Regions from separate parts of the Homo sapiens genome. Here all the other regions are linked to region 1. Evidence: fine-mapped expression QTL. A gene starts in region 1. Each other region holds a variant in brackets. All regions are shown on one strand. Distances are from middle to middle.

The links.
Region 2: its variant is fine-mapped to the expression of KL in whole blood (INTERVAL, PIP 0.95).
Region 3: its variant is fine-mapped to the expression of KL in whole blood (TOPMed, PIP 0.98).

The regions. Positions count from the first base shown.
Region 1 is chr13:33,012,794-33,020,980 of GRCh38, reverse strand. It overlaps KL (klotho), which reads right to left and starts at 4,558. Exons shown (of 5, transcript NM_004795.4): 1 at 3,722-4,558. The coding sequence starts at 4,540. It overlaps LOC124903151 (translation initiation factor IF-2-like), which reads left to right and starts at 4,528. Exons shown (of 2, transcript XM_047430819.1): 1 at 4,528-5,145; 2 at 7,346-8,129. The coding sequence starts at 4,539. The coding sequence ends at 7,536. RefSeq lists enhancers at 3,533-3,592, 3,801-4,378, 4,379-4,954 and silencers at 3,663-3,762, 4,453-4,522.
Region 2 is chr13:33,127,386-33,135,572 of GRCh38, reverse strand. It overlaps STARD13 (StAR related lipid transfer domain containing 13), which reads left to right. Exons shown (of 14, transcript NM_178006.4): 5 at 5,284-6,644; 6 at 8,027-8,187. Among named protein-coding and RNA genes, the nearest start is that of KL, 120 kb to the right of the region's middle. The variant A/G (reference allele first, on the strand shown) is at 4,631.
Region 3 is chr13:33,038,881-33,047,067 of GRCh38, reverse strand. The region is part of intron 1 of KL (klotho); the gene reads right to left. Among named protein-coding and RNA genes, the nearest start is that of KL, 27 kb to the right of the region's middle. The variant T/C (reference allele first, on the strand shown) is at 4,935.

The DNA of each region.
Region 1 (8,187 bases):
TGCAGGATGCCATAGAAGGAAGAGATGGCATTCAGGCATGGGGCCCAAGGGAGCGTGTTAGCTGGCTCCAGAAGAACAGGTGGGATTTGAAAAAGCAAGGACTCTGTCTTGTCCACACATAATGTCACCCTGTAGAGCATCCATCATGGCACACTGCAGGGGGCAAGGCAGAAATAAGAACCCCAGCAGTGAGGCTGTTCCCATTACCCAGGCAAGGTTGGATGGTGTCTTGCACCTCCATCGTAGTCATAGATAAGGGGAGAAGTGGTTTGATTCTGGACACATCCTGGAGGTAGGTAGAGCTGCAGGATTTGTTGATGGATTAGAAACAAGACATGAAAAAGGGGAGTAGTTAAGATTCGGGGTCCAACAACTGGAAGAGTAAAAAGTCATCATAATAGAGAAGGGGAAGCAGGGGTTTGGTTTGGGATGTGTTCGATGTGACATGCCCATTAGACATCCACGTGGAGAAGGCGGTTGTCTATGCCAGTCTGATGCTCGGGGAAACCTGGGTGGAGACTCAAAATCTCCAGTCATCGGGATGCAGCAGTATTCAAAGCAATGGCCTGGAGTGAATCTAGACAGAGCCCTGAGCCCTCCACTATTTACAGGCAAGGTGAGGAGGAACAAGCAAAGGAGACTAAGAGGGAATCGCCAGGGAGCTGAGAGGAGAAGCAAGGGAGAGCCAGGGCCTGAAATCCAAGTTGAGGAAGGATTCAAGGGACAAGAAGTGATGGCTTCAACAAACATTGCAGACAGATGGGCTGAGACCTGCACACTGATGCTAATGCTCAACAATGCCCAGATTAATATCTCCTAGCCCTACTTCCTTACGTGAAAGAAGTCTTTTTCACAGGTTCCTTGCACAAATGTTTGCAAGAATCTCAGGCGGTGAGGGGAGTTGAAGGTGGGAAATGGGAACACGTGTATTTCCAACTTGATTCTAATCCTCTTAGAACCCATATACAGAACAAAGACTCAGAGGCACTGCTGGGGCTGAACTCCCCAACTACAGTCCCTAGTGCTGATTTCAGGGGACATTAAGAACTTTGTTTCAAGAGCTGTGAAGGCTGAGCAGTTGGTCTTCAAGTCCGAGAGAAAAGGTGCATCCTCCTGGATTACACTCAAATGAGCAAAGCAGCCTGAGCTCCAAGCTCTTTGTAGGAGACCTCTCTCTCTCTGTCCCTCCTCCCCTCTCCCCTCTTCTCCTTCTCTTCTGTCTCCTCTCTCTCTCTCTCTCTCTCTCTCACACACACACACACACACACACACCATTTTTGCCAAGGCTCACTCCAGTATGAGGAACCCACAAAGAACACCAAGACCTCCATTCTGAGCAGGGCCTCCATTATTTGTCCTGCTGTTTGTTTGTTCTGCCTCCTGTCCTCCAGGCCATCAATGATTCTTGACTCTCTAGGAGGGGTCAAGCTTCCCATCATCCCAGGGGATCTCCTTAGCCCATTTGTAAGTTAGTGGAAACACAGAGGGAGTGAGGGAAGGGTGCTAGCCAGTCTTTATCCTTCACCAACATCAGATCCCGGAACACAACTGGCCCCTATATCTGTACAGCAGCAATATCTAAGCCCCAGCTAAAATGCCCTTTTATCAAAATCTGCAGAATGTTTTATCTTTTTCAGGTAAGCTCAAATTTTTCTATTCTCGCTTCCCCCAACCCCTATATACACACCGAGAAAGGTCATTGAAAACAGAATGAAAGTATCTCATACAACAAAATTAATTCAAGATACTTTCTTTGACAATGGGAACTCGCTTCTAAATAAGATACAAGAATGACTAAACACCAAACCAAAAGAAATGTGAAAGCAAAATTAATACTTTACACCAACTAACAGTTTGTTTGCAACATCAGCAAATGGAGCATTCACCTGTTACTAATTTCCCTAAATACAAAGTCCACTGCATTTCTAGGAAGGATGGTTAGTGTTTGGCAAATTTTTTGTGTAAGCATTGAAAAATATAACTGAGAAGTTAATCAGAGGGCCATGAGTGGGCAAAAAGATCTAAAACATGTTGATTATTTAAAACACCAGAGCACCAGAGAGCACGCAAGTCTTTATCTTATAATAAAATGATCCTATAAGTCACTATAATAACAATTGACTACTTTGTATATGCAAGTTTATCCTAGGGACTCTAAAAATAGAACTTGTAGGATTTAAATCTAAAGTAAAGATTTTATGGGCATGATCTATTAGATCCTCCAGCTGATCCATTTATTTGCTTCCAGTATGAACTGATAACTTGCTTATGTTTTCTTCAAAAAGTGAGACCATTCTTCCCATAGTTTTTCTATCACCAGCCATACACTGGTGGTCTTTAGAGTTTTTCAGATCCATAAAAGGATTGAAAAAGTATAAGAATCACCGCTCTAAAACATCCTTATGAAAAGACATACATAAGTATGAAATCACAAAAATCACAATGTGTTTCCAAACAAATCCAACATTCTTTTATGGCCAGTAGCAGCAAACAGGTTTTGTGGAACTGACATAAAATCTAATTTAGCCATTATTACAACATTACCAGCAGCTCAGAGCACTAAGTCACCTCAATAACCCAGTACTGCTCTGCCCATATTATCTATGGCTTTAATTAAAAGTGTTTAGAAATGGTTTTAGTACTGACTTTGTTCAGAATATGTGGCTGAATTCTAAATTTAAAAATAAGTCTTCCAGTAGGCCCACAAGTGATCAGAATTGGGTACCAAAAGTTGTACATTTAAACACTTTTATTAAAATGTTTATACATGTACATAAAATATTTTATTGTGATACAAAACTCTGTACAAAGTGTACTAACAACTGACATGATTATAAATGAATCCCCAAAACAATGGTGCCTAAATTTGAACACTAAGGAGAAAAAAGGAGGAAGAAATACTTGAGACAACTTTACCATGGCATAGCAATATTTCCTGCTGTCAAAATTAATAAAATATTTTGCACAAGGGTGTTACAATTAATTTTATCAGGCTAACAATGTCATAAGTGAGGAACCCTTTCAACTGTAGAGAGCACTGTGGAAATATAGATGTGGTAGAACAATCTATATCACCCTGCAGTTGTTTCTGTGTTTCTATGACTAGCTTTGTTTGAGATTGTATAAAGCGGTCTTCACACCCCGGTGAATAAGATTGGTGGATGCAGTTCCCTGCCCTGCCGCAGAAGGGACCTCCAAACACAGTTTAAATCTGACTCTCCGGGAGTTGTGTTTTGACACTTTCACAACAGTGTGAACTTGTGCCACAAGCAAGACAGATCTTATTGGATTAACACTGAACTCGTGACAGCTCCAGAGAGTAATGCTATCTGTGCGGCTTAAGAACAAACGTGTTTCTTTCATCCACCCTGCTCATTCTCTTCCTGCAGTTACTCCTAGCAAATCCTCCCCGCCCTCACCTCTAGGAATTCCTCTACACCCAGAGAAAGGAGTTTCTTTCCTCACTGCGGAAACCTATCACCGCTTCCTTTCCACAGATGGACTCCAAGGGGCACTCACTCGTGTGCCCACTAAGGGATTTCTCTCCTAATTCCACGCCTTCCAAGGGAAGTCAGAACTGCTCAGTTTCCCCCGGTGACCACATACACGTGTCCAAGTGAAGCCTCGTCTGGGGGAGACTCAGTTCCCACACTTCCCCCTGGCCCCTGTGGAGGCCCTCTGTCTCCCCTGCGTGGCCCTCCGCCTGGCCCCTCGCACTCACCAGGAGGAGGTTGTGCGCCACCAGGTACCCGAGCCGCGGGCTGCCCCGGATGCCGGGGGCCAGGCGCCCGGTGGCGTAGCCGTGCCAGGCCACCACGTAGGGGTTGTCGATGGTGATCCAGTACTTGACCTGACCGCCGAAGTGGCGGAAGCAGAGCTCCGCGTAATCCCTGAAGTGGTCGGCCAGGGCGCGGTTGGCCCAGCCGCCGTAGGCGTCCTGCAGGCGCTGGGGCAGGTCCCAGTGGTACAGGGTGACCACGGGCTGCACGCCCAGCTCCCGCAGCCGCTCCAGCAGGCGCCGGTAGTAGCGCAGCCCCTCGCGGTTGGGGACGCCCGCGCTGCCATTGGGGAGCACTCGCGCCCACGAGATGGAGAAGCGGTAGTGAGTGACCCCGAGCTCGCGCAGCGCCTCCGTGTCGCGGAAGACGTTGTTGTAGCTGTCGCTGGCTACGTCCCCGGTGGCGGGCTGCAGCGGCGACGGGGCGCCCAACGGCAGACTGGCGTTCCGGGAGTCTCCCGGGGGTGCCAGGGGGTGGTGGGTGAACGTATCCCAGATGGACGCACCCTTGCCGTGCTGCTGCCAGCCGCCCTCGGTCTGGTAGGCGGCGCTGCCCACGGCCCAGAGGAAGCCGTCGGGGAAGGTGCCCTGGAAGAGGCCCGCGGCCTCGGGGGCAGGAGGCCGCGAGAAACGGGCCCAGGTCTGCGCGCCGTCGCCCGGCTCCGCACGCAGGCGGCGGCCGCCCAGGCCCAGCAGCACCAGCAGCAGCGACAGCGACGGCGGCGGCGGCCGCGGGCGGCGCGGCGGGGCGCTGGCGGGCATGCTGCGCGGGAGCCAGGCTCCGGGGCCCCGCGCCGCGCCCCTTTATGCCCGCGCCCCGCCGCGCCCGCCCGCCCACCGCCGGCGCGCCCACCCCCGCTCCCCGGCGGGCTCCGCTGGCAATAATTACCTGCGAGCCGGGACTGCCTCCGCCCTGGCACTGGGGGCGGGGGCAGGGGCGCCGAGGGCGAGGGGTGCCCGGGAGGGGCGCGGCAGCGGGCAAGGTGCGGCAGGCGTCGCCCGCGGACGTCGGAGAAAGGCACCTGTTTCTCCCAGCTCCCGGGAGCCGTGCAGGACGTTTCGTGGACGCTCAGGTTCATTCTCTTTGCCTGCCGCGCGTCCTCTGAGAGCAGCCCTGGAGCGGCTTCGTCGGGGAGAAAAGGCGCCGACCAACTTTCCCCGACTTGGGGGCGGGATCCTGCCGGGCCCTAGCGGAGCGCGCCGCTGGGGAAGCACCTGCTCTCACTTTTCTCCCACTCGGAGGCCCAAAGAAGCTCCGGCTGGACATTGCTGGAGCCAATTAGGGACTGGCCGAAATCCTAGAGGGACTGCCAGGTGGGACAGCCGAGGGGGAACTTCGCCGTGCGCTGAAAGGGATTCCCCCTTAGGTGAGATGCTCGCGGGGAGACGCGCCCACCCGCGCCCCTCTTTCGAGGAAGACAAAGTAGATTTATGGGTTGCGTTGGGACTGGGGTTTTGCTCTCCCTTTTACTGTTACCTTTTAATAATTTCAAACCAGCACTCTATCTTTGATTAGATCTCTCAGAATACCCTGGTGAACTTCAAATCACAGTCGTTGATTGTTCTCCTGAAAAACCAAACACCAAGTTTCCAATTTTGAGTAAATCTCATTCACCTTTATTATCCTTTGGCATCTGTGTTACCTTTCGGCTCTGACTTAGCAGGTAATCTGTGCAAAGTTGTGCGCACAGGTCTGCTGGAGCGGGAGGTCCCTGGGTCGCACATTTGCCATCTGAGCTGTGGAGGGAAAGGGGAGGGAGAATTTAGCCGGAACACCCATTCCCATCCTCTACAATACAATGGAGCCATGACGTTTTTCCTGTTGCCAAAGAGCCCTTTTGACAGAAGTTGCAGAGCCACAGTGTCCATTTGGATGTGGGTAGATAGGATTGTGGCTAACCGAAATACAGTTGGTGGAGACTGAGAAGGTCTAGGCTCCACCTTTGTGATTTGGGGCAGGAAACCTCTGTAAGCCTAAGTTTCCTCCTCTATAAAATAAGGATGTCCTGTCTGCCCTGCCGCCTCAGAGGCTTGTGAAGTCCAGTGAAAAACTGCGCAAAGGTGACTCAAAGACAGAAAGCCCAGACAAGTGAAGGATCTTGCTAATATCCCTACCTCCCTACCCAGTAAGTCGTGCCTTAGTTTCCTCACCCGTACACGTGTGTTGAATGACCAAGATCCTCACAGAGGTGCATCCATTCTCCCCCAGTGATCTATCTTCCCTGCATTATTTAATACAAATTTAAAGGCAATAACATTTTAAATGTTGCAGATGAAGGTGCTTTTATTAATTCCCCTGAAATATAAGCACAAATTTATTCCAGTATTTTATGAAATATTCCCAACTCCAGCCAGCATATATTACCATGATTAGTAAGATTAAGTCTTCAGATTGAAACAGAGTTACTGCCATTCTGTTAAATATAGCATTTACATTTTTTCAATAAATACGAAATAGCAAACCATGACACTTCAGCAATTTTAAAAAATTACAGCACACAACTTCACTGTCACGCTGTCTTCCAGCTAAATTTAAAAAGCTACGTCTACATGGAGTATCACATTTCCCTTCTAGAAGTGAAGATTGGAGTGTCTGTTGGGTTGTAGCTTGTTAAGTTTCAATTAGAAATGCTTCATGGGTCTCATGGAAAATCGCTTAAGCTAAGTATTCATTTATTGATGTATGGTCTGTTTGCTCAGGGCAGATTTTATCTATTGCTATTTTTACTTGACCAGCAGCATTTTTTAAATTTTAAAGCAGTGATTAAAAAGCAAGACCAAGTTAACTAAACGTTTCACATTTGAAATTTGTCTGCCACATAGGCACATGCATCTCAAAGCTTTAAGCATTCCAAGACATGTTCCCAGATGATTGTTCATTTAACCCAGTGATAAAGATTGCATGATGATTAAACTTTATTTCCAGAACTTTCTGTTTATTAAGGTTCTGTTCATGGTTACTAAGTTCTGGGTTCCACAAGTGTGAGACGGAGTCTCACTCTGTCGCCCAGGCTGGAGTGCAGTGGCATGGTCTCTGCTCACTGCAACCTCTGCCTCCCAGGTTCAAGCAATTCTCCTGTCTCAGCCCCCCAGTAGCTGGGATTATAAGGGCACACCACCACACCTGGCTAATTTTTGTATTTTTAGTAGAGACAGGGTTTCACCATGCTGACCAGGCTGGTCTCAAACTCCTGATCTCCTGTGATCCACCCACCTCGGTCTCCTAAAATGCTGGGATTACAGGTGTGAGACACTGTGCCCGGCCTAGTGCTGCTGCTTATTTATTTTGGCTTTATTTTGGTTTTTATTTTTTACAACCACCTTCAAACATCTGAAACTTGGGTTTCAAATGCAAATAAGAGATTAATTACTTGCTGTGCTTTGAACAGGAAGGTGAAGTTATTGATGCATTGAAGAAAAGGACATTGTAAATTTATTTACTGACTTTGATTTTGGTGACAATTTCAACACTGAAAGTTGTCAACAATCTGATCAACTTTTCCTCCATTCTCCACATTCCTTCATCCAGTGCCTTCCCACCTGTTCTCTTTCCTATTGTGTTCCCAGGACGATGGGAGCCTTTTAACACCAATGGAGCAGGAGATGCACTGATTCACATGCACCCAAATACAACACCAACCCCACAAGCTCTCAGCTCACCAGTCACAGACATCACCTTCTACGGACATATTTTTATTTCACTGAGCTACAACTACGGGCAAGGCAACGACGAGCTGTGTGGAGACTTCAAAACATAGAGGACAACCTCTGCCCTCAAAGACAACATCCAACTGAAGAAAGGATCAAGAAAGATGAAAATAAATAAGTTGTTTGATTATGCTGTGTTAATAAATGACCCATAGAATAATTGTCAGAGAAATTCAGAAGAAGAAGAAATTACCCTATTTTGAGTTGTTTGGAAAAGTTTAACAGAGAAAAATATGACAATATCTGGGGTTTAAAGAGTAAAACTCGCACAAAGACCTGGAGGGAAGGAATCAAGAGATGCCAACACTGAAGAAAAAAACATGTTCATAGTGTATTCGTGGTGAAAAGAAAGGGTTTTTGTGCGCAAGGAAGTAATGGACCAAAATGCAGTAGTCCCAGTGCCTAGAATCATGCTGAGCACAAAACAAGTATTTGTTTAATGAGCAAATGAAAGTAGAGTTTCATTTGTCCAGTTAACAAAATACACAAGTATTCCCTGCCCTCCTCTTTTTAAAATTAATTAATTAATTAATTTTTAACAGACAAAAAATTATATATATTTTCATGTACAGCATGTTATTTTAAAATATATACACATTTGTAGAGTGGCTAAATTGAGCTAATAAACGTATGTATTACCTCACATACTTATTTTTTTTGTGGTAAGAAGACTTAAAATCTGGCCGGGCGTGGTGGCTCAC
Region 2 (8,187 bases), 110 kb before region 1:
TCATCTCTAGCCAATTCTTATAATTATAAAGTTATAAATGTAAATTACCTGTGAAACAGTGGATTCTGTACATTATACACTTTGGTTTATGGTAAGCAAACTAACCTTGAATTGGCACTTGTTGTAAATCAGATTGACCACACACCAGTACCATGCAGCTGTCACTCATAGGACTCACCGTTTGAATTTGACTACACCCAGACTGGTCTTTACCCTGTTCAGTAAGACAAATCCACTGATTGTGAGCTCAGATAGCACAGACTTTTCAAATGGTGACAAATGGTTTTACTTCTTACTCTCAATTTCTGTATCTACCTCATTAAAGAGCAAGTTTGGGGACTGGCAGCCCCCTGACCACACTCTGAGTAGCACTGTCTAGAGTTCCTCATTTCTAAATCAAGCTATTAGTTCTTTCAATTGTCCACCCCAGGAGGTTGTGGTTCTTAGATCCTTGGCCATTCTGATTACTCTTCTCTAGAAATGTACCCCTTAAAATGTGGAGCGCTTAGAAAGAACCCATTGTTCCTGATATATGTGACCAGTGCAGAATGCAATGGGCACTGACCTTTTGAGTCTTGGGATCTATGCTCTGGTCATGCATCCTAAGGTTGGTGTCTTTGTTCAGTAGCCATATTACATGGTTAAGTCACATTAAGCTTACATCTGCCAGAACTCTCAAGACTATTAATAGCAGGAAGGGCTGTTGAACTATGTTCGTTTTATCCTGAAGATCCTGTAATTGATTTTTGAAGTTAGAGTCATTATATTTTACTTTTATGAAATTTTATCTTATTAACAGGTCATCCTTCACTTCTGTTAAGCTCTACACACTTCTCAATATTGCTATTCTCTAACAACAATAACTAGTTTCATCTACCACTTTAGGGTTTATATGGTATTTTCACATATAGTCCCATTTGGTTCTGTTGATAAATCATGCTAGACATGTGTTATTATTGTTTTCATTTTCTAACTCTGAAAACTGAGTCTCAAAGAACCCTTAGCAAATAGCCTAATACCATCTTTACAGTTTAAAAACAGGAGTTCCGGCCCATTCAAGTTACTCTTAAAATGATCATAACCTTGAGACATGCTTCCTTCAGTTATTTACAGTCTTTTAGTCACACGCTTTAGAGGAGTTACTCAACCAGTTACTGACAAAACTCTCTGTAGCAAGCTTGTCCAACCCATGGCTCACGGGCTATATGTGGCCCAGGACAGCTTTGGATGTGCCCCAACACAAATTCATAAACTTTCTTAAAACATTATGAGTTTTTTTGGCCATTTTTTAAAGCTCATCAACTATCATTAGTGTTAGTGTGTTTTATGTGTGGCCCAAGACAATTCTTCTTCTTCCAATATGGCCCAAGGAAGCCAAAAGATTGGACCCCGTTGTGTAGCATCTAGCTAGTGAGCCATATTGTCCACAACGTGGGAACCTATTTTCAGTTGTGTTGCTGAAATTCTGATGCTCCATGTCCCTGGTACGTCCATGGTTTCTGAGACAGGAGAATAAAGTTAGTTTGATGTATCCTTTTCTTTATAAACACATCTGACTCCTAGAGATTTCCATTTTACATTTCTAAATAATCACAAACTATTCATTGTTAACCTCAAAAATTATCAAACAGATGAAATCTGATAATCTCTTTTAAACAATCAGTACACTTCCATAAATACCACTGGAGAGTCTGAAATGTGCCTGATGCTCTGCTGGGTCCCAAGTGCGTAAAAAAACCTTAAACTCTACTGCAATGTGTTTTTCATACTGCAGATCATGGCCCCTTGGTAGGTTGTCAAGTGAATTTGGTGGATCACAAACAACATTTAAAAAAATAAAATAGGCTAAACTAGATTAAAAAGTATCAGAATACAAACAAACAAGGATAATTACTTAAGCATAAATTTTTTTTTTTTTTGCTTTAGTATAGTCTGTATGCATGCCCTGAGTTGTGATGGAAAATACATTTTTTGTTGTGTGTCACTATCAAATAGTTTGAAATATCCATCATTAGTGAAAGAAACAGACACAACCATTTCAATACCCTTTGGAACATACCATGATCGTTGTAGGCACAGGGTGCCAAAGAAGACTGGTCGTTTTTTTTCTCTGTTGCATTTTGCTTTCTATTGCTTTGGTTTTTGTTTGTTTGCTTTGGTTCAAACAACCTAAATACTGCAAAATTTCCCTGAGCTGTTTTCCTTTTTTCCCAGGAGTTTGCCACTTTTTCACATGCCTTAGTTGGGCTGTAAATATCTTCCTGTTGGCCAAAGTGAGTATAATAAGCTCTTAGAGACCAGCAGACAGGGCCAGGCTTTCCCTTCCCAGGCCACAGTGCCCAGCTTGGCATGTGTTCTTAACCTAAATAAAGGAGTCCCTATCCAACTAGTATGTGGTGTGCTGGCATCATAACCAGGTTTGAGAGAGGTAGTTGGGGCCAACACTAAATGTTGTAGTTTCTGTTTTAAAATATCTATATTTTCTTTAAAGTCATATCCTTTTTTTTTGTCTTCTCAAAAACTGTCTGCTAAAAGGGCTTTTTCATAGTCCTTATTTAATATCAACTTCTCACTAGCTTCCTAAAATGCAATACAAAAATCCAATAAGTTCAACGTTCAGCCTATCATGGCACCTTGTGTATAAATGACCCTCATATGTCAGTTTTCATTATATCAATCACAGGAAAAGAGGGAGTAGAAAGTACTAGTAGGAAAGTATATTTTGAGTCATCATTCTGGAGTCTTGCCCTTTTTCCACTTGTACAATTACAACTTTCTAAACTCTTTCATCAGAGCTTTATACAACTTTTTTAAAACTCAGACTCATTTTTCACTGTGATCTCAAGCTGTAGGATTCTTTTTTGTTTCTTTTTGTTTCCTTTTTTTAAGAGACAGGGTCTTGATATGTTGCCCAGGCTAGACTCAAACTCCTAGACTCAAAAGACCCTTCCACCTCAGACTCCCAAGTAGCTGAGATTACAGGCGTGAGCCACTGTATTAGTCCATTTTTCACGCTGCTGATAAAGACATACCTGAGACTGGGTTATTTATAAGTAAAAAGAGGTTTAATGGACTCACAGTTTCATGTAAGCAGGCCTCACAATCATGGTGGAAGGCAAAAGGTACATCTTACATGGCGGCAGACAAGAGAGAAAGAGAGCCAAGCAAAAGGGGTTTCCCCTTATAAAACCATCAGCTCTCATGAGACTTATTCACTACCACAAGAACAGTATGGGGGAACCACCCCCACGATTCAATTATCTCCCACCGGGTCCCTCCCATAACACATCAAAACATGGGAATTATGGGAGCTACAATATTCAAGATTAGATTTTGGTGGGAACACAACCAAACCGTATCAGCCACCGCACCTGACTTCTAAGCCATAGAATTCTTTTCTGTACCTTGGCTTTGTACTCGCTTTCACTTTAAACTTGAATGTTCAAGTTTGTCATTTAGTCAAACCTACACGGAAACTAGATTTTGAAGGAATAAACAAGAATAGGAGGATCCCCACAATGATTAACTGTGCATCTGCTTAGGTTTCCTTAAAAACAACACACTGCAAGGTTAAAGGGAGTTAAAGTGGACGCTAGATACATAAAAAGATTAGTAGGCAATTGAACAAACATTGAAAGATACAAATAAGCAAATACCTCTCAGTGAGGGACTGCTGAATGCACTACCTTCTTTATTCTCTTCAGCAAACCTATGAGGCAAGACCCGCTTCAATCTTATAAGTGGCAGAAACTTACTTTAGAGAGGGTAAGTAGACTGTGGACAGTCACCTAGCTCTTAACTGGTATCACTGACACTTGGAACCAGGTCTTAAAACTGAACACCCAGGTAGAGTAAAATAAATTTAATTCAATTCACAAAAAATAAGCAATTATTATGTCCTTGGCATTGGACAGGCTATACATATGAATAAATATGTTTATATGAATAATGAAACAGAGAAACACAGGTCTTGCTCTTTTTTATTTTTTTGAGATAGTGTCTCACTTTGTTGCTGCGGCTGGGGTGCAGTGGTGCCATCACGGCTCACTGTAGCAGGCCCGGCTCTTGATGACTTCACCTGTAACAACTGAGAGTGGAGGCTTTCAAGCAGAAGGCTTCTAAGCTGAAAAAAAAAAATCATATGATTCGATTTGGACTACACTGTGGAAAGCTATTTAGATGGGGAAGATGCTGGAGACAGGGTTTCTCCCACATTTTTACTGTAACAGATCCAGAGAGAGGTGGCAAGGCCTACACTAAGAGAATGAGAGTGAAATTACGAATGAGGGAACAGATTTGAAAATCAGTTCAGAATTAGGTCTTGGTGATGTGCTTGGTGAGGATGAAGCAGGATCCGATGATTCAGTTTATTTCAGAAGGAAATGATATGCTCTAGGTCAAGGTCTGCGCTGGGCCCAAGGCTATGCAAAGCTAAACCAGGCCATCTCTGGCCTCAGGGAATGCAGATGCTCCCCTCTCAGGGGCTGCAAATTCAGGCAGAAACCAGACACCTAGAGTCAATGTGTGAGGCCCAAAGTGTAAGACAGTGCCAAGCCGCGGGGACCCACTGCAGCCACACAGAGGTGTGCGTCCTGCCAACGGCATTCTGACTCGGAGTTGATTCCACAGA[A/G]AAAGACGCTCATGCAGAGTAGCCGGATTGGATCACAAATAGCGATCTCCAGAATGGCTCCCTCATCTCTACTTAAAGAAATTCAGTGGTTCATTTTGCTGTTACCTTATCCAGGGAATACACGATAAGAATCAAGTGCAGGGGACTAAAATAAGGAGTGTTAGCTTTGAGATATACTGAAGCTGAGATTCAGATGGGGCAAGCTGGAAATATGGTCCCCGGGGCTCAGTGAAGAGGTTTCTGGAAAGAAGTAAGTGCCTTTTATGGCAGAGTTGAGTTCCTTTGTGAAAAAGAAGACTGCAGGTGCTTTATATTTAGACCGTCTAGTCTGATGTAATTATACCCTCTTTATAATCAGTCAGGGAAAACTTCTTAGAGAGGAAGGAAGGAGGCATTCAAAACCTCTTTGAAAATGGGAAGGAAGAAAGTTTGGCAAGTTGAGAAGGGTCCTCTGGCCACTGGGAGGAAGGGTATGTACAAGACAGTGCAAGTGGTAGAAGGACAGCTTAGAGGTGCCCAAGAAGCTCACACCTGTGCATGGGAGGACAGAGGGGAGGGAGGTGGAGGACCACACAGGGCTGCCCTCAGAGCACCCAGAGTTCCTGCTTCAGCCACGCTGTCTGCTAATGAGCATTTTCCTTGGTGCTCTGCAGGGTGACGACTCCGATGAGGAAGATCTTTGTATCAGCAACAAATGGACTTTCCAAAGAACCAGTCGCAGGTGGTCTCGTGTGGACGACCTCTACACGCTGCTCCCTCGAGGAGACAGAAATGGGTCACCGGGAGGCACGGGGATGAGGAACACGACCAGCAGTGAGAGCGTCCTCACAGACCTGAGCGAGCCTGAGGTCTGCTCCATTCACAGCGAAAGCAGTGGAGGCAGCGACAGTCGCAGCCAGCCGGGCCAGTGCTGTACAGACAACCCGGTCATGCTGGATGCCCCACTCGTCAGCAGCAGCCTCCCACAGCCCCCCAGAGATGTCCTCAACCACCCCTTCCACCCCAAGAATGAGAAGCCCACGAGGGCTAGGGCCAAATCATTTTTGAAACGCATGGAAACACTCCGAGGGAAGGGAGCCCACGGGAGGCATAAGGGGTCTGGGCGGACAGGTGGCCTGGTGATCAGTGGGCCCATGTTGCAGCAGGAGCCAGAGTCCTTTAAGGCTATGCAGTGCATCCAAATACCAAATGGAGATCTCCAGAATTCGCCGCCACCTGCCTGCAGAAAAGGGCTCCCATGCTCTGGCAAGTCGAGTGGCGAGAGCAGCCCGTCGGAGCACAGCAGCAGCGGGGTGAGCACGCCCTGCCTGAAGGAACGCAAGTGCCACGAGGCCAACAAGCGCGGGGGCATGTACTTGGAGGACCTAGATGTGCTGGCGGGGACAGCACTGCCGGATGCAGGGGACCAAAGCCGTATGCATGAATTTCACTCCCAAGAGAATTTGGTGGTGCATATTCCCAAGGATCACAAACCAGGAACATTCCCCAAGGCACTTTCTATTGAAAGCCTCTCTCCCACAGATAGTAGCAATGGGGTTAATTGGAGGACCGGTAGCATCTCCCTGGGCAGAGAGCAGGTCCCTGGTGCCAGGGAGCCCCGGCTCATGGCGTCCTGCCACAGAGCCAGCCGAGTCAGTATCTATGACAATGTCCCTGGCTCCCATCTGTATGCCAGCACAGGAGATCTTTTGGACTTGGAGAAAGATGACCTTTTCCCTCACTTGGATGACATTCTGCAGCATGTCAATGGGCTCCAAGAGGTAGTCGATGACTGGTCCAAAGATGTCTTGCCTGAACTGCAAACTCATGATACATTGGTTGGGGAACCTGGCTTATCCACCTTTCCATCTCCTAATCAGATCACCTTAGATTTTGAAGGTAACTCTGTCTCAGAAGGTCGGACGACACCCAGTGATGTGGAAAGAGATGTAACATCTCTTAATGAATCTGAGCCTCCTGGGGTCAGAGACAGGAGGGATTCTGGTGTAGGGGCCTCTCTGACCAGGCCAAACAGGTAGGTGGCATGCACTTGTGAAATGATTTTTCATCCATTTCATAGTAATTGTGTTCTGTTTATTTCTTTAACAAACATACACAGAGTACTTACTAAATGCCTGACTCTGTTCTAAGTGATGTATGTGATTAGGAATTATTTGAACAGAAGTATGACTTCTGTACAGGTATCATGGTGATTGAATCCATGTGAACTCATATTTATTTGTGCTTATCCTTTATTTTGTTCCTAGTTTTATCCAAAAATATTTTGAGCTTCTTATGTGCAAAGCGTTATACTGGGCACCATAGGCAGGGAATCCTGGATAACCAATACCCAGTTCCTAGGCACCGACTCTTCCCCTGACCTTCCTGTGATGCGTTCATCAAAATGTCTCTTCCCCAAATTTTACACTTTTTTTGCTCCTATAAGAAATTTCTGAGGCCTAAGATGTGTACTCTGCAAGTTTGTTTTTGCTTTAAAGTGCCAATTACAAAGTACATCAAAGCTGACCTACAAAGACCGTTTCAGAAGCACCATAGAAAAATGGCCCTGTGCTGCTGGGTTTCTGGTTGAGGCAAGGGTGTGTCTTGTGGTTCAGTGATGTGTCACCTCTGTACCTCTCATCTTCGGGCTCCATCTCAATACTGAGCAAGATATAGAGTGTAGACACATGGAAGACAATGAGAAAATTTTCTACAGCCCTAGACATTCGACAGCTCTCTCCCTCTCTCTCTCTCTGTTTCTTGCTCCCTGTCTGTATCTCTCTCTCTTTCTCTCTTTGTCTTTATCGCTCTACCTCTGTCTGTCCTCTGTCTATATTGCTCTATCTCTGTCTTCCCTCTCTCTGTCTCTTGCTCTGTCTCTATCTTTCTGTCTCTGTCTGTCTCTCCATCCTCTGCCTCTGTATCTCTTTTTGTCTCATCTCTCCATCTCTCCATCTACATCTGTCTCTCTCTTTTCTATCTCTCTGCTCTCTCTGCTTCTGTCTATATCTCCCTGTCTCCGTCTCTTTCCTCTCTTTCCGTTTCTCTCTCTCCCTCTGTTTCTCTCTCTCTCTCTCTCACATACACACACACACACACTCACTCACACACACACTGTCTCAGCTTGCTCTCAACACTTTGGGAACAAATTTGGAATAAACAAACATAATATTTCCTCTATCACTTATTTAAACCCCCTAATAAAATGGATAATAAGACTTTTTCCAGATTTATCTGACTTGGAAAAATCATGTCCTATGTTTATTCTGCACACTTGTGTCTTCTGTTCCATTTGCTTTGCGATTTTCTTTGCTCGGCTGCTATCTTGATTAGCTGCGTGTACCTTGGTGATGTCCCGTGTTTCCCGCTACCAAGTCCACTTTGTGACTGGCTTCTCTGATGGTCTCTCTGGTAAAGGCGACTCCGATGGAACAGTTTCCAGCTGTCGCACCAGCCCCGGCCGGCCCCAGCATCGCCCCACATCAGCAGCCAGACGGCCAGCCAGCTGAGCCTGCTCCAGCGCTTCTCACTGCTCCGCCTCACGGCCATCATGGAGAAGCACTCCATGTCCAACAAGC
Region 3 (8,187 bases), 26 kb before region 1:
CATATGTTAGACCAGAAAATAAGTCTTAATAAATTTTAAACTGTTGAGATCATAAAAAGTATTGTTTCTTACCACAATGAAATGAAACTAGAAATCAATAACAAAAGGAAAACTAGAATATTCACAAATACGTGGAAATTGTTGACACACTCAAACAAGCAATAAGTCAATGAAGAAATCACAAGGTAGATTAGCAAAAGCTTAAATGTGTATATAAAAAACTAACTGAATATGTAACATACCAATACTTATAAATTGCAGCAAAAGCAATGCTCAGAGGAAATTTTATAGCTTTAAATACCTACATCAAAAAAAAAAACAAGATATATCTCAATAACTTAGTCTTCCACCTTAAGAAAATAAAAAAGAAGAGCCAACTAAACTCACAGCTAACAGAATAAAGGAACTAATAAAAATTAGAATGGATATACACAAAATACAGAGCAGAAAAATTATAGAATCAACAAAATCAAAAGTTGGTTCTTTGAAAAAAATCAACAAAACAGACCAACCTTTAGCAAGACTGACTAGAGAAAAAAAGAGAAAAGAAGCAAATTAATGCAATCATAAAAGAAAGTGGTAACTGACCTTTTCTGTATATCATTTCTATAATAAAAAGGATTACAAGAGAACATTATGAACATTTGGATGCCAGCAAATTAGATAACAGAGATGACCTGGCCAAATTCCCGGAAGCACACACATTACCAAAAGTGGCTAAGGAAAAAATACAAAATCTAATCTAGGTGTAAAAGAGATTGAATTAGTAATCAAAAACTTTCAAACTAAGAAAAGCCCAGGACTAGTGGCTTTAATAGTGAATTGTACCAAATATTTAAAGAAGAATTAACACGACTCTTTTCAAGCTCTTCAAAAAATAGAAGAAAGAACACTTTCTAACTTAGCCAATGTGGCCAGCATTATCTTGATACCAAAGCCAGATAAAGCCACCACAAGAAAATAATAGTTACAGATCAATATCCCTTATGAATATAGATGCAAAAGAATGCAACCAAATACTAACAAAACAAATCCAGCAGCATATTTTAAGAATTATACAGCACAATCAACTAGTATTTATTCCAGGAATGCAAAGATGGGTAAACATTAAAAAAAATCGTTGTAATGCATTACATCAATAGAGTAAAGGGGGAGAAAACCCATATGATTATCTCAATTAACGCAGGAAAAGCATTTTACAAAAATCTGAAAGTCTTTCATAATAAAAACACTCAGAAAACTACGACTAGAAAGGAACTTCCTTAATATGATTAAGAAAAGCATTTATGGGCCGGGCGTGGTGGCTCATGCCTGTAATCCCAGCACTTTGGGAGGCCGAGGCGGGCGGATCATCTGAGGTCAGGAGTTCGAGAGCAGCCTGACCAACATCGAGAAACCCCGTCTCTACTAAAAATACAAAATTAGTCGGTGTGGTGGCAGGCACCTGTAATCCCAGCTACTCTGGAGGCTGAGGCAGGAGAATCGCTTGAACCCAGGAGGCAGAGGTTGTGATGAGCCGAGATCACGCCACTGCACTCCAGCCCAGGCAACAAGAGAAACTCCGTCTCAAACAAAAAAACAAACAAACAAAAAATTATGAAAATCCACAGCCAACATTACAGTGAAAGGCTGAGAGCTTCACCCCTAACATCAGGATTGAAAGGAAGATGCCTGCTTTCACTATTGCTCTCTAACATTGTACTAGAAGTTCTTGCCAGAGCAATTAGGAAGGAAAAAACTATCCAAGTTAGAAAAGAAGTAAAACTATCCCTATTCACAGATAACATGATTCTACATATGGAAAATCCTAAAGAATTCACAAAAATCTATTGCAAAAAATAAACGATTTCAGCAAAATTGCAAGGTACAAGATCAACACACAATAGTCAGTTGTATTTCTGTACAATAGCAATGAACAGTCCAAAAAGAAAATTAAGAAAACAATTCCATTTATAATAAGTTCCAAAAGAATAAAATATACACAGGAGTACATTTAAACACTCTCACCATTGCTATTAAAATTGTACTGGAGGTCCTAGCCAGTGCAGTAAGGCAAATAAAAACATAAAAGGCATGTTGATTGAAAAGGGAAAAACAAACAAACAAAAAAACAAACTTTGTTGTTCATTAAAAACATGATTGTCTGTGTAGAAATCCTAAGATTTTTAAAAAAACAGAAAAACTATTAAAACGAATAAGTTAATTTAGCAAGTTGGCAGAATACAATGTCAATACAAAAATCAGCTGCATTTGGCCAGGAACACTGGCTCACACCCATAGTCCCAGCTACTTGGGAGGCTGAGGTGAGAGGCTCCCTTCAGCCCAGGAGTTCAAGTCTGCAGTGAGTGCTGATCACGCCACTGCACTCCAGCCTGGGTGACAAAGTAAGCCTCTGTCTCAAAAAAAAAAAAAAAAAAAAAAAAAAAAGAAAATCAATTGCATTTATATATGAACAGAAAACAAACAGAAAATAAATTTTAAATACAATGCCACTTACAGTGGTACCAAAATCGTAAAATACTTAGAAAATAATTTAACAAAAGATGTGCAAGTTTGCTACAATTATAACACATTGCTAACAGAAATTAAAGAATATGTAAATAAAGAATGAGATACCATTTTCATGGATTGGAAGAGTCAATATTGTTATCAGATTTCCCCAGATTGACCTACTGAATCAACACCATCTCATCCAGAATCCCAATAAACTTTTTGTAGAAATGAATAAGTTGATTCTAAAATATATACAATAAGAACATAAAACAGCTAAAATAACTAGAAAAAGGAAAAACACAGTTGAAACATTCACATTACCTGATTTCAAGACTTATTATAAAGCTATAATTATTTAATATAGGGTGATATTGGCATAAGGATAGACAAATACATCAAAGGAGCAGAACAGAAAATTCCAAAATAAACCCACAGCCAACTGATTTCTAACGAATGCATCAAAGCAATTATGTGGCAACAGGAAAGACGTTTCAACAAATGATCCTTGACAACTGGAAAAGTGTATGAAAAAATTAAACCCCAATCTTGCATAAAAATTTGAGACAGATCATAGATCCAAAGCTAAAAGCTAAAACTATAAAACTTATAGAACAAAATGTAAGAGAATAGTCTCTTTATCTTGGAGTAGGAAAATACTTCTTAGAACACAGAAAGCACTATATAAATATACATATATTAAAATATCTCCCCTCAGTATGTGATTTGCCTTTACATTTCGCTAACATTTGATGAGCAGGTTTTAATTTTGACGTCGTCCAATTTATCAGTTTTTGTTTATGATTAGTATATAATTGACAAAATAATTATATCCGAAATAAATACGTAAGCCTACCTATCAGTAGTAAAAGAAAAATAACTCCCCTTCCCACCATGAGCAAAATATTTGAATAGATATTTCACAAGAGAATCTTCACCAATGCTCAGTAAACACATAGAAATGTCCTCAACATCAACACTATCAGGAAAATGCAAATTAAAACCCCAACGAGCACTCACACCCACTAAGATGCCTACAACTAAAAATACTGGCAACAGGCTGGGTACAGTGACTCACGCCTATAATCCCAGCAATTTGGGAGGCTGAGGCGGGCGAATCACTTGAAGCCAGGAGTTCGAGACCAACTTGGGCAACATGGTGAAACCCCATCTCTACTAAAAATACAAAAATTAGCTGGGTGTGGTGGCACGCCTCTGTAGTCCCAGCTGCTTGGGATGCTGAGGCATGAAAATCCCTTGAACCTGGGAGGCAGAGGTTGCAGTGAGCCGAGATCACACCATTGTATGCCTGGGCAACACAGTGAGATGCTGCCTCAAAAAAAAAAAAAGACTACCAACAAATTCTGGCAAGGACGTAAAACAACGGAAATTTCATACATTGATGGTGGGAGTATAAATAGTACCACCACTTTGGAAAACTATTTGACAGTTTCTTATAAAATTAAAGATAGATTTTCTCTATAATCTAGCAAGTTCATACCTAGGTATTTACCAAGAGAAATGACAACATAAGCCCCCCAAAAGACTTGTACAATATTAAGATAAAACTTACAAATTGATATGTTCAAAGATGCTGGCCGGGCACAGTGGCTCAAGACTGTAATCCCAGCACTTTGGGAGGCCGAGGTGGGTGGATCACCTGAGGTCAGGACTTCGAGACCAGCCTGACCAACATGGTGAAACCCCGTCTCTACTGAAAATACGAAACTTAGCCAGGTGTGGTGGCACATGCCTGTAATCCCAGGTACTCGGGAGGCTGAGGCAGGAGAATCGCTTGGACCCACGTGGCAGAAGCTGCAGTGAGCTGAGATCGCTGCCACTGCACTCCAGCCTGGGGAACAAGAGCGAAACCCCATCACAATTAAAAAAAAATGCTTATAGTAGCTTAAATCGCAATAGCAGAAAACTGAAAACAACACAAATGTCCATTCACAGGAGAATGTATAAACAGTGTGGTTTGTTTATACAATGGAATACTATTCATTAATGCAAAGAGTGAACTACTCTTCTAGGCAGTAATATGGATTAATGTCAAAAAGATTGTGTAGATTGAAAGAACTCAGACACAGAGTACATTCACAGAGTTGTTTGATTCCATTTACATAAAGTCCCAAAATCAGTCTGTGGTGATGGGAATCACAACAGCGGTTTCCTACGGAGGTGAGAATTGATTAGAAGTCACAAAGAAACTTTCTGGGGTAATGAGAATATTCTATATCTTTACTTGGATATTTGTTACAGATATCCATACACATACAGGTGTATGTAGTCATCAAAATTCATCAAATTGCTTATAAAACATGTGCATCAATTTTAAAGATCTATAGATTAATAAATATATAATAGATTAATATCTTAGTCATTGGCAAAGCTATTCAGGTATAGAAATATAATTACCTACAATTTATGTGGCAAGAGAATAC[T/C]GATTTTCTCCGAAACATAAATTCATCTTTGAAACTACTACAGTAATCTGTTAGTTAAAAAAATATATATATTTAGCTTTTAATTGCAGGGATCATATTCATTCAACAAATATTACACTAGGCACTTTTCTAGGGGATTCAAAATATGATCCTGTTCTTATGGAGCTTACATTCTTGGGAAGAAGAGAGATAACAAATGAAAACAAAGCAGAGAAAGGATAGAAGGTAACAGGGATTGGGATGGGAAGGCAGTTTAGACAGGCAAGTCTTCTTCAAGGAAGCATTGTCTGAGGATCTGTAACAGAAAAAGTGAAGAATGCTAAAAAAGACTGGGACCTGAGATGGGGGTGTGTGGAAGGAGCAGAGAACCCGGAGGATTGGGCAGAGGCGGTAGAGGGTACGGGAAGGGCATTCCAGGCAGAGTTGAGCAAGTGATGAGAGCATAGACTCAGCCAGGCTTTCCTAATTCTGCCCCCTTATTAGCTGTGGGACCTTGGGCAAATTATCTGAAGTCTGTGCCTCTATTTCCTCATCTGTAAAGTAGGGATAGTAATAGCACCTCATGGTTATATCCTTGTGAGGATTAACTAAGTCAATACATGGAAAGCACTTAGAATTGTAAATGCTATGGAAGTGTTTCTTATTCAAGTGTTGTAGTAATGTTTGATTGGTAAGTTCAAAGATACTTACAGTATTAGGTTGGTGCCAAAGTAATTGCAGTTTTTGCCATTTAAAAAGTAATGGCAAAAACTGCAATTACTTTGGCACCAACCTAATAGCTTTAATCACAATAGCAAAAAAACTGAAAACAACATAAATGTCCATTTACAGGAGAATGTATGAACAGTGTGGTCTGTTAATACAATGGAATATTACTCCTTGTTTCCTTGTGACTCTTAATCAATTCTCAACATAGGAGACCACTGTTGTGATTCCCAGTACATAGAGTGATTGTGGGACTTTATGTAAATGGAATCAAACAACTATGTAAATGTACTCATTGTGTCTGGGTAATGATTGATAAGTTTCCAAAAATCAGTGGCTACTACGTGGAAAATAGGATCTAGGAGGACAAAATGGGAGCAAGGATACCAGTTAGACAACTATTGCAATGGTCCAGGCAAAAGATCATGATGGTTTGGACCAAAAAAGATAGTAACAAGTGGCTAGATTTAGGCTATTATTGAAGGCAGAATCTGTAGAACCTGCTGATGAATTGGATGTTACATGTTGCATGTGAGGAGGGGAAGAGGAATCAAGGAACTCAAAGAAAACAAAAAATAAGGAGTTGGGGAAGGGAAGGGATCAAGTTCTATTTAGGTCACAAGTCTAGCTTTCAATGAAGATGCCTGGTACTCAGCTGAGTATATGAAGCTGAAGTTGGAGAGACATGGATGGTATCACCAATCACCCAAATATGTTTCAGGGGTAATACTGAATGGACCGCTTTTTGTTATCTATCATTCATTAGATTTTTTAAAAATTGAAATGGAATAATTCTTAAAGGATTAATTTAATCCTACAAATAATCTTAATTAAATGGACTGAGACCAATGGTGGAAGAAATGAAATGCAGCCCATAAGCAGAAAATAATTCAAATAGCTCATTTATGTCTTCTCCCTATCTAAGAAAAGGGCCCTCCAGATGTTACTTTAGTTCTGAATTAAAGGTGACCGTTTTCAAAAAGGTCAAAGGATTGAAAAAATTTTAGAAGGCACTAGAGATTTATTTTCTTTTTCTTTCTGGCACCCTATTACCTCAACTTCAAGAAGAGTATTGGGATTACATTGTCTGAGGACTTCCTTAAAAGTCACTGCTACTGTGTGGTGTTTACATAAGCATGCCAACTAGCCTGATGTTTGTGCTCGCAGACCAAATTATTTCTCTTATTTCTATCAGCACTATGGTTTATAAGCTGCAGTTCCTTAAGACAGAATTTCAAACAGCCTCCCACAAAACAACCACCTAATAGAACACATAAATAATTTCCCAAAAATAACTATCTACAACTTTATCCACAAAAAATAGCCAGTAGTCTCTGTGTGCAGTTCCTTAAAAGTTGCTCAGGATTTAACCAATGCAAGGGGGCTCATATCTGCTTTCCCTGACACCCAGTTAGACGAATATGTGTGAACAGGCAGCAGCTTGGCACCCCTACCTGCTTTGGACTTCTTAGCAAATCAAATAAGTTGCATTTCTAGCTCTGAGCACCAAGCCTTACAGTCTTCTACAAAGTAACAGGAAGACCAGTAGAATCGCATATAAATGTAAACAGCATCACTTCCCAGCCTAGCTGTTTTGCTACAGCCAGGTCAGTTTCTCATTACTCCTCATCCAGGGCTGTACCTACGTTGGATGCCAACCTACTAGCCCTGAAGTTGCATTCTACTTTTCCTTCATATCCATATCCCTTTCTGCCTTCTGTTCTGGACTTGCCTCTTCTAAGAAGTAGTTCCTAATGAACCCCACTTACTCTTAGTACTATCTTCCCCAATTATCAACTGAAAATTCTCACTTCTTCCAAATTTGGCTCAATTCCCATCTCCCCTGTGAAGTCTTGTTTGGCTCCCCACGTGCATTTAGGCATTCCTTTCCCAATGCACCCCACCCACAAGCAGGAGTAAATAACATGCTTCTTCATAGTTCTTCCTAAGTTGGTGGCTCTTCACCAAGATTGTATTATACTCCCCCACAACAATAAAGTTGAATGGAAACAACTTGAACATCCAATAATGTGGAATTATTCATTCATTTATCCTTTCACTCAAATATTTATTAAGTAACTACTATGGGCCATTTATAATTCTTAAATTAGTTGAAACAACCTAAAGGGCTAACAATAGGGATTAGTTAAAATAACCCAGGAATAAGACATTAAATGAAATAAATTATTAGCAACAAATGATCAGTGTTGATAAATAAATTATAATTTATTAATTTTATGAGCAATAAATGATCACCATGGACAAATATAGCTTATTAAATTACAAACTATAGTTAGCTATAGATAGACCACGTACAGTATTACCTAATTTTGGAATCATATGTACAGATGTAAAATAAATACACATAAGACAGGATTTTAAAGGATTTGTACAGAGATAGCAGTTATAGTCTCTATTGAGTAGGACAGTGGGCATTTATTATGTTCTTCTGCTTCTCTGATTTTCTGACTTTTATGTAACGAAATATGTATTGCTTTTTGAATAAGAAAACACAAATTTTTTAAAACTGGAATTTTCAATTTTGGAA